Linked DNA regions of Homo sapiens: region 1 is linked to region 2. The links come from fine-mapping of genetic effects on gene expression. A gene starts in region 2. The other region holds a variant in brackets. All regions are shown on one strand. Distances are from middle to middle.

Region 1 (5,374 bases), 43 kb before region 2:
ACAGATGCTTAACAGATGCTAGTTAATATTTGAATCTAACTCCTACTCCAGTATGCATGAAGACAGAGGAAAATATAGGGAAAGAGAGAGGGAAAGAATGCAGCAAAGAAGGCTATGGGGAAACACGGGAAGCAAGTGAGCAAAAAGGTGAGGACAAAACAGGGGCCAGGGGAAAGAGTGCCATCTCCCTAAGTGTCTGCAAGACAGGAGAGGTGAGAAGGTATAAGCCAACAGCCTTTGGTGTGGACATTGTCTACCACCATGCCTGGTGTATTCCTGGTCAAGGGAGGCTGAGTGAACATATAACTCATCAGTTAGTTGAAAGACCACAGAGTTCCACCATGACCAAGAGCCCATGGGTCAGGGGTCTATGCCCCTTCCAGCTTCTCAGGATTTGGGTCAGTCTAAGAAACACTTAGAAACTGTGGGTTCTAGGCACACATCATCTCCAGCCTGAGATTCTCCAAATGAATAAGGCTCAGTTAGACAGTGCCTGTTCCCTGCCACTTTTCACACTTTGCCCCAGGATTCCCCCTGACCCTGTCTTTGAAATGAAAAGCAGGGAAAGAACTTCAGGCACTCTCACAAGTCAGACCAGTTGAGAATCTGACAGCGGAAAATAAGGATTTGCCTGCTGGGAAGAGAAGATACATGCTGTGATCATTTGAGTCCCCAGGGGAGCTTAACAAGAAAGAAGGCTTTCTGGTGGGAAGAGAAACAGAGGATGGCAGAGGCTCATAGAAGGAGACATCCGACAGAGAAGCCATGGGGCTGGCAGCCTCGGGACTGCCCCACCCACCCTCTTGTGCATCAGGCAGATGCCAGCTTACTGAGCTTCCTTATTGGGGTAGGATGAAGAAAGTCCTTGGCTTAATCAGGCATCTTGGGAGTGAGAGCACTAGCAGGTGTGTCCCTTGGATCCGCTCACAGCTGCTCCTCCACCAAAACACCCAGGGTCCCTCATGACCCTAAGCATCCCCAGAACAGTGCCCCATGAAGAGGCAGTGCTTTCTGCCTAGGAAACCCTTCTGAATCCCTTTTCACACCTCTCCTCCCAAGTTCCTCTTCCCCTCATCCCCCAGCTCTCTCTGAAGGGATGATAATGGTTAGTGGTGACTTTTTAAAAATAGTTTCTGCCCGGGAGTGGTGGCTTATGCCTGTAATCCCAGCAGTTTGGGAGGCCAAAGTGGGTGAACCACCTGAGGTCAGGAGTTTGAGACCAGCCTGGCCAACATGGTGAAACCCTGTCTCTACTAAAAATACAAAAATTAGCCGGGCGTGGCGGTATATGCTTGTAGTCCCAGCTACTCAGGAGGCTGAGGCAGAAGAGTTGCTTGAACCTGGGGGCGGAGGTTGCAGTGAGCCGAGATTGCACTACTGCACTCCAGCCTGGGCAACAGTAAGGCTCTGTCTCAAAAAAAAAAAAAAAAAAAAAAAAAAAAAAAAAAATTCTAATTACAAAAGTAAAGCATCATAGTTGCAGAAGTTATTGATACTAAAAGAAAAACCTCAGACAAATTAAATTTAGCAGAGTTTAATTGAGCAAAGAATGACTCGTGAATCGGGCAGCCTCCCAAGCCCGAATAGGCTCAGAGAGACTTCAGTGCAGCCACATGGTGGAAGAAGATTTACGAAACAGAAAAAGGAAAGCCACCGTACAAAAAAATGGAAGCGAGGTACAGAAACAGCTGATACTTAACAGCTCTGCATTTGCCTTATTTGAACTCAGTTTGAACACTTGGTTGCCTTTGATTGGCTAAAACTCAGTTGATTGGCATAAGAGTAGGTTGCAGACTGTTTACACATCCAGCTAGTTTTCAGTTTACTATGGTTCCTTATGTACAAAGAAACCTTTAGGCCAAACTTAGACTATGTAAGGAGGCAGCTTTAGGCTAAATTTAATTTAGCATTGAAAATATAAGAAATTACAAAGAAGCAGCCCAGGCTCAGTGGCTCCCGCCTGTAATCCCAGCACTTTGGGAGGCCGAGGTGGGTGGATCACCTGAGGTTGGGTGTTTGAGAACAGCCTGGCCAACATGGGGAAACCCTGTCTCTACTAAAAATACAAAAATTAGCCAGGCGCAGTGGCGTGCACCTGTAGTCCTAGCTACTCGGGAGGCTGAGGCAGGAGACTCGCCTGAACCTGGGAGGCGGAGGTTGCAGTGAGCCGAGATCGCGCCACTGCTCTCCAAGCGTCGCTTGGGCGACAGAGCGAGACTCCATCTCAAGAAACAAAAAAAAAAAAACAAAGAAGAAGGTAAAACTCTGTCATTTACCACCCCAAGATGACAACAGTTAACCGTTTTGGTTTATTTCCTTGCCGTTTTTCTTCCGTGTGGGTGTATGATCATTTATATGTAAAACAAACATCAGCCAACCCCCTTCAGGTCTACCTTTCCCAGTGTATTTAGGAAACAAGGGGTTGTTCTCACGTGGGCTGGGGCCACTGCAGGGACCTCCTGTCTTTTCTCCCCTCCCCTCCCACAGGATGCTGCTCACTCTGTTTGCATGACAACCAAGGGGCCACTCGACTTCCTGTTGCTGCTACTTCCTTTTCACATTCCACAGCACCACTACACCCAGATGTATAATTTCACTAGACTTTACTGAAGGTTATGA[G/C]ATGCAGAAGGAGTTTACATCTCAAAAATTGAATAGTAGAAATTCTTCCTCCTAAAACTCATTTGGCCATCAGACCACCAGGAATTTCAAATGGACCACTCACATTTTTTGGCAGGTTCCAGCTCCCCGCCATGCTGCTTGGACTCTTTCTCCCCGCCAGCTCCTCTCAGCTTCTTAGGTTTCCCCACTCTCAGATTCCCTTCATTTCATATACAAAGCAGTCTGGGCATCTTTTCATCTACGTGTGTGCCTGCTACTGACCTCTAAGCTTCACCTTCCCCACCTGAAGCAGTTGATGAAGCCAGTCTCCTCCAAAAAGATAATTTATTCCTTTAAACTCTGCTATAGATATTACAAATTCTTCACCCATACAGAAGGAGCAGAACTTTTAAAAGAAAAAATAATTCTTCACCCTGATACACACACACACACACACACACACACACACACACACATTTATTTTTCACAACATTCAGGTTTATACTGTACAAACTTTAGCAACCTTCATGTTTTTCCACCAGTGTTTTCATTGAAAATATTTTTCACCGTTCCACAGCATGATTGTAATGGCTGTGTAATGTTCCATTGCACCAATGTCCCATTATTTATTTAACTAATCTACTGATGGATACTTAGGTTATTTCCAGCATTCTGTGATTACAGCACAATGCTGCCAAAGACGTGCTCTTTCCGCTATACATGTGCCTGTTAATTATCCTATCCCCAAACACATCTGAGGACATGAGGGAAAGATGGTGGGAGAGGCAATAGGAACAGGGAACATGTCTCTGGGGCAGGAGAGGGGATTGAAATGGGAGACGTTCTTTAATGTCCAAAAAGAGAACAGGATAGAACTCTGGCTTCTAAGGTCTTCCCATTCTGGCTTAGAGTTTCTGCCAATGAACGTGACGTGTGTACTTGGCCAGAGCTGAGAAGGAAAAGATAATATGGGGCGATGGGTTTCTTCTGAATATTTCTGGGAATACACTCATCTTCACATTCCAAATGGCCAATCTGGCCACTCCAAAGTCCCGCTTCCAGACTGAGGAAGGGGTGTTAATGAAGATTCCAGCAAACAACAGCTCTGTCCTACCAACTTTTCACTACTGCCTTCTCCCTCTCTGTCTACTACACCAAAGTCAAGGGTGAGAGTAAGGGGCCATAGGTGGGATAACTTCTAAGTGTTCTGCCATAGCACCCAGATTGGTGCCAAAGGGCTGAGCTGACCTTAAGCTTTGGCATTACAACTCCCTTGGGCAGATTCCTATATGCTTTAAAGGACTGTCAATGTAAGCTTTCAGCTTACAGGATTTTATACTGACTTTCCATGCAGTTCTTTTACCTGCCACTTTGACAGCTATTTTTGCCAACAGAGGGTAATTAAAAAGAATATAAACTCCTTGAAGATATCAATATCTCTTGAATGCTTTCCATATTCCTTATGAAGCCCTGGGCACAGGCCACGATGAGTGAATCCTTATTGACTAAGTTTACTAAGAGTGCCTACCCGAAATTGTGTAGTGATGATGCGTGGGAAGCAGCAGCTCTGGTAGTGATCCCAAAGGTGGGGCATCCATGTGAAGAATCAGAGGGATTCAAGGGAGCAGCTTGGTTATGATGAAAAGGAGAGATCTCCAAAGACAGTGTTGCTAAAACAAAGAAAACAAAAGACACACTTGACAGTGTTTGTTTGAATCTAGTGCAAGCACATACTAGAATGGAAAAGTGGAAGGTCAGAAATTAATGTGAATGGAATCAAAGGAGATTTAGCCCCCTAGATAAAGCCAAACAGCTCCTGGCAGTAGAAATAGCAGCAGCAGTAGTGGGAGACTCTCTGGGCAGCAGGCAGGAGAAATAGGTATTGGAGTGAACAAAGAAACGGCTACTTGTGGGCCAGACACGGTGGCTCACACCTGTAATCCCAGTGCTTTGGGAGGCCGAGGCGGGCAGATCACCTGAGGTCAGGAGTTCAAGACCAGCCTGGGTAACATGGTGAAACCCCATCTCTACTAAAAATACAAAAATTAGCCAGACCTGGTGGCAGGCACCTGTAATCCCAGCTACTTGGGAGGCTGAGGCAGGAGAATTGCTTGAACCCAGGAGGCAGAGGTTGCAGTGAGCTGAGATAGTGCCACTGCACTCCAGCTTGGGCGACAGAGCGAGACTCCATCTCAAACAAACAAACAAACAAACAAAGAAACAGCCACTTGGAGGGTGCTAACTCTCTGAGCCAGAGTTCTCAGTCCTCAGACTTGATAAAGACCTTCAGAGATCAGCCAGTCCGGGTTTCCACCATTACCACCAGCTCTGTTGGATTGGAACCAATATGGGATTTGGGGTTAAGTAAACACTAGCTCTTTCCCCATAAGAGCTAAGTGGGCTCAGCGGGTCACTTAACTTCCCCAAGCCTCAGCTCCTGGAAGCAGAGCTAATAATAGCTATTTCCCGGAGTCTCCATGAAAGTTAAATGAGTTGTAAAACACCGTATATATGTTAGGTCTTGCTGCCAGTTGGGCATAACCACTGTGGTAGGTGCTGTGTGAGAATTTAAAGATGTTCTAGAGATGTTTGTCTGAAAGAGCAAGGGAGACGCATTTCATAAAGAACAGTAATGATCCTGATTTGAGAATGTAGCTATGAAAAATAATTTTATTCTTTGTAAAACTAAAGGGCACATTTGATGATTGTACCTGTAGATCTGACTCATTAGAGAGACCCCCTAACAGGTTCTGCAAAGCATTACCATTAGGCAAGG
Region 2 (5,374 bases):
TCCTCCATCCCTTCATCTTTTTGCCTGGCAAGTAAACTGGAAGGGATGAATCCTCTTTTCAGATAGTCTTTGCCCACTGTTCAAGAGCTTTTGTCTAATCTTTTCATTCATTCATTTATTCAATCACTCATTTATTCATTTGCTAGGGCTAGAGGCTTAGCACAGTCCCTGGCACATGGAAAATGCTAAACAAATGCAAGCTCTTAGTGTTATGAGGTGCTGTGGAGAAACAGAGATGCACAGGATAGACCCCAGCCCTGAGCAGTAAGAATGGGAATAAGAATTACAGCTGCCAATTTTGAAATACTTGCCAGATACTGGGCTACGTACCGTCCAGACAATATCCAGCCCAGGCCAGGTATCATCCACCCTACAGAGGCATTTGTTGGTAATGATTAAAAGGGAGGATTCTGGCCAGGCGTGGTGGCTCACGCCTCTAATTCCAGCACTTTGGGAAGCCGAGGTGGGCAGATCACTTGAGGTCAGGAGTTTGAGACCAGCCTGGCCAAATGGTGAAACCCCATCTCTACAAAAATTAGCCAGGCATGGTGGCGGGTGCCTGTAGTCCCAGCTACTCGGGAGGCTGAGGCAGGAGAATTGCTTGAACCTGGGAGGCAGAGGTTGCAGTGAGCTGAGGTAGTGCCACTGCACTCCAGCCTGGGCAATAGAGTGAGACTCAGTTAAAAAAAAAAAAAAAAGTGAGGATTCTAAAGTCAAAATTCTTATTCTAGCTTTCCACTGACTGGCTTCTTTGCCTTAGATTCTCCCTCCGTACAGTAAGGGTACTATTAGTTATTTCATAGGGTTACTGTGAGGATTTAAATTATTAAATAATACAGAATTGGTACTTGGAGCACTGCCCAGCATATAATATGCACTGAACAAATGCTGGCAATTATTATTATTATTTGATGTAATACAATTACCCTTTATGAGGTAAGTGTTATTATCAGTGTTTTACCAACAAGAAAGCTGAAGTTTAGGAAGCCTGAGTAATTTGCCTAAAGTCCTACAACCAAATAATGGAACTCGGGTCCAAACCCAAATCTGATTCCAAATTCCATTTGCTTTATTACTGTATGCTAGAAAGGAAGAAAACATGCATACATACATACATAATTATTTTTACAAGACAGAAAAGCAAATGAGACTGTAGAGCACAGAATATTTTCATGGCGCATAGTAGATTCTCAATGAATCCAGCCAAATAATGATGATGTTGATGATGTCAGTAATGATGATGACAAAATTCTAAAGTGCCATACTGAAGTTTTAAAAAATTGTTTTAAGATGTCACAGGACAGAGAGAGATCATTTATGAAGAGAGGAATAGTTGGAGACTTTCCTGGAAAAGGTGGCATTTGCAAAGGCCTTAAAGGATGACCATGAGTTGGACACAAGGAGAGAAGAGAAAAAGGCACCCGGGTAGAGGAAACTGCAGGAGCAAAGGCTTACAGACATGAATGCTTAGGGTGTGTGTGAAAAGAAAGAGCAAGAAGTTCCACTGGACAGTACGTGTTATATGAAAGAAAATAGTTGGGACTGAGCTGGAAAGGAAGGAGACACACCCTTATTGACACATGAGGCCTTGCCCAAAAGACTGGTCAAAGCAGAGAGATTTCTCACACTTCAGAGTCTTCTGAAACTCACATTGGAGAAACAGCCATATGAGGGATTTGGAGATGAGGAATGGGGTTTCTTCAATATTCAGGCAAGAGTAAGTACCACAATGCTTATGCAATAAAGCTTCAGTTTGAGGTGAGGGTCAGTTTGAGGTGAGGGCTAGGCAGGGCTGACATTCAGCCAACACATGTGTATCAATATAGGTTGTTGAAAATATTAAACTGCTTTTCCTCCAGGCTGGTAAATGGCACTACCCTGAACCACCCAAGGCCCCTTCCCCTGGACTCCAGGACCTCCTCGACATCCTTGCATAAAAACATTAATTTCTGGCATTATTTTGATAATCACCCCTGGAGCTAGGGGACTTGGCTTGAGGATACTTTTGCATAGCATTTTACTTAACATTGAAAAACACAACAGTTTTATCAATAAATGGGTTGCAGAATGTAAAAGCAAACAGACCAACCGCTACACTCTGGCCTCAGATATTCCTCAAGCTAGATCCTTCTGGGGAACTAACTCTTTTCCTGCTGAGTCACTGTGGCTGCAGCCCTGCCCTTCCATGTGACTGTGTCATTTGGCATTATGGTTCCTCCTGAGCCCAAGGGAACTACAAAGGTCTGTATCAGGACACTGGGCATTGCCACTGTGCTAGGTGCACACACCTGACTGATCGTCTTGTGGGCTCCCGCATTTCCTGTTGCTCCAGGCATCAGATATATCCCTGGGATCCCTCCATTAGCTTGGCAATGCTATGGAAGTTGCCAGAAAAAGAATCCTAAGGAATTGGTTCTTGGCAAATCCTAAGGAATTTGGCTCAGGCATTTGTCTTCCTAATGAACTGGTGGGGAGGTAGCTGTGTTGGTACATCATCTCCAAGGCAGGATCCTGCCCTCTGAAGCTTGAGGTGAGAGCGGGGACATGGGGGGTGGTGGGGAAGCTTGGGACCTGCTCTTCCCTCTGCCATGAATTTTCTCTTTCTGCCCAAAGCAATGGCTTCTCTTAGCCCTGCATTTCAATTTGATTGCTCTCAGTCCCCACGGTCACCTTCCCCCACCCACAGCTCTTCACAAAAGACAGCCAAGAACAGGGAGGAAGGGATCCTGAGGCAGAGTCCCTTTGAGCCCAATTGAGGCTGGGGTCCCCGGGCAAATCTGCACCCTGTGCAACTCCTGGGACTGCAGATGTGAGTGATGCCCCAGGATGAACGGTGCCCCAAAAGCCTTGAGCGGGGGAACCCTGTGTGCCATCTGCCACTTCTCCCTTGGGAAGATAGCCCCACCACTGAGCCAGGGAGCACCAGGAGGAGGTCCTGGATCTCTAACATCTGTCATCCTGCTGGGTAATGATACTGTGTCTTTCATAAAAGTCAGAACTAGCCTGGGCAACATGGAGAAACCTCATCTCTACAAAAAAAAAAAAAAAGCTGGGCATGGCAGTCATGTACCTATCAGTGCCAACTACTTAGGAGGCTGAGGTGTGAGGATCGTTTGAGCCAGGAGGCAGAGACTGCAGTGAGCTATGATGACACCACTGCACTCCAGTCTAGGAGACAGAGTGAGTCCCTGTCAAAAAAATAAAAATTAAAAAGAAAAGCTTTCCATCCCTCCCTTTTAGAGAAAGCAAAGAAGACACATAGAAGACGGTAATTCACACACCTACAGGTGTGGCTGTGGTCACAGGCTTTGCCCAGGGACCTTTCCTGGGAGGGGAAAGAAAAGCCTATGAATTGCATTGAGGACCAGAACAAGGGCACAGGATATGGAGGGAGGTGACAACGAAATGGTTTTTATTGGCAATCAGTGCTTCACACACTGCGGTCCCTCCTACCAGTCCGCTAGCAGGTTCCTAGGGAAGCAACACGTCTTCTATTTGGCCATGCACACACCCCCACACCCCTCTACAGCAGGGTGCACTTTCTGTTCTCCTGCATGGCTGGCTTGATGCTCACCCTGCAGCCCAGTGACAGGAGGAATGACATCACGCCTGCCTGTGCAGAACCTACCTTCCATTCCCTATCTCAACTGTGCTCTTCTTCTCCACAGTGGCTCCCAAAGTCTCAAGCCCACTGTGCTGATTTGAGCATTTGGCTCAGCCTTTTCTGGTCATCACCAACGTTCACCTGGCCATGCTGATGGCAGCACGCATGGATCTGGCCATTCCCACAGCCTGGTCACCCCATGGTGGCCCTTGATTGAGCTTGCCATGGCACGGAAGGGGGCCTCTCCTACTCACCGATCTCCTTATTGAGGTACAGCACATTCATTTGTATTCATATGGTAGTAATACCTAATTTTTATAAAACTCCTCAAGTGCCAGGCACTGTCCAAAGTATTTACATACATTACTCATTTAATCCTCACAATCACATGATATATACTGTTAGCCCCAATTTACAGATTGAGGAAACTTGCCCATGGAGACTTTTGTTAACATATTCAAAGTTGCATGTAAGGAACAGGGCCCAGATTTCAACCCAAGCTACTAAGTTCCCAAGTGCATGTGTGTTCCAAAACATCATGCCATGAGGCTGCTGAAGATACACATGACTGGTATCCAAATCCTTCCTAGGAATAGGCAGTGATGCTATGGGTGGAGAAGCATGGAGGAGGCAGATCCTGGAAAGAGGGTGAGCAAAGGGCACAGAAAGGGGACACTGGGAGTCAGAAGCCAAAGGGGAACTTGGACTTCCCTCCGTTCTCCAAGGCCTGGCTCTCTTTGAAGATAGTGTGGGATGAGAGAGAGAACAGAATACTAAAGAACAGAATGAGAGCAGGTGAGCAGTGGGCCCAGAGGAGAGGAATGCACACAGGCTGAAGGGAGAGAAGAGACAAAATGGACATAGCACGTCTCACAAGCCAATGGGAGGAGCTGGGAACCCAGCATTAGCTGGAAGGTGCTCACCTTCCCTCTTGATGGTTGACTCAGTGCCGACACAGACTTTAGCTGTCAGCCTGAAAGCAATCAGCTCATCATTGCAGCCTCTTTATTGTCTAAATTTTTCTGAAAGCATGAGAAGCCACTGGCCTTTCAACAGGGCTACCGAGGACCTGGGGAAGAGAAGGGCAGGGAAGCAGAGACAGAGGCCAAACACAAGTGCTTCTGCCAGCAGGGTTCAGAGCACATCTGGCAACCCCAGCTCCCAGCCCTGAAGCAGGCACCAGGCTACAAGGACAGACATAGACCAGGGACAAGGAAAAGGAAGGGCCAGCCCCAAAGCCCTTGGGATGCCTTGTCAACAGGCCAGTGTCCTTTGGAAAACACTCCAAAGGAAACAACAAATGTGAGACAAAGGATTTCCTTCCTCTTCCCTCATGTCGGAAATTCCCTGAGTTTCTTTCCTGGACCACTTGTCTGTCTCTATAACAATCCTACACACTGGTCAAAGTTTTTAAGGCCAAAAGTTTTAAAGGAAATGGAAAGAGAAGTAAGATTGAAAAGATGTGTCAGAGTCTGTTGCTGTCACTGTGGGAGCTCACTCTTTCTTGTCACAGTGAACAAAGCTGAGGAAACCAAGATTTTTCCATGCATTTGCTGGGGTTGGGACCCATGGCCTAGAACTAGGGGTCAGCGGAAAACAGAGCATGCCCATTAGACAAAGGGGTTAGCGAGAAGGAAGATAGAAGCAGATGCCAATGGGGCAGGGAGCTGTAGGGAAAAGAGGGGGAAGAGGGAGGGATGGGGGGAAAAGGAGGAAGAAGTGGAGGAGGAGGGGATGAGGAGGAGAAGGAGGAACAAGAGGAAGAGGGGA

The links. PIP is the estimated chance that this variant, and not a neighbour inherited with it, causes the effect. A credible set is the group of variants that fine-mapping cannot tell apart.
Region 1: its variant is the best candidate, but not a certain one, in a credible set for the expression of LINC01269 in whole blood (TOPMed, PIP 0.61).

What each region holds. Positions count from the first base shown.
Region 1 is chr14:70,653,174-70,658,547 of GRCh38, forward strand. All of the region lies in intron 1 of TTC9 (tetratricopeptide repeat domain 9), which reads left to right. Among named protein-coding and RNA genes, the nearest start is that of TTC9, 14 kb to the left of the region's middle. RefSeq lists enhancers at 348-934, 1,508-1,567 and a silencer at 1,308-1,447. The variant G/C (reference allele first, on the strand shown) is at 2,620.
Region 2 is chr14:70,696,327-70,701,700 of GRCh38, forward strand. LINC01269 (long intergenic non-protein coding RNA 1269) reads left to right here and starts at 2,372. Exons shown (of 4, transcript NR_125769.1): 1 at 2,372-2,530; 2 at 3,669-3,874. RefSeq lists enhancers at 1,482-2,681, 2,088-2,589, 2,590-3,089.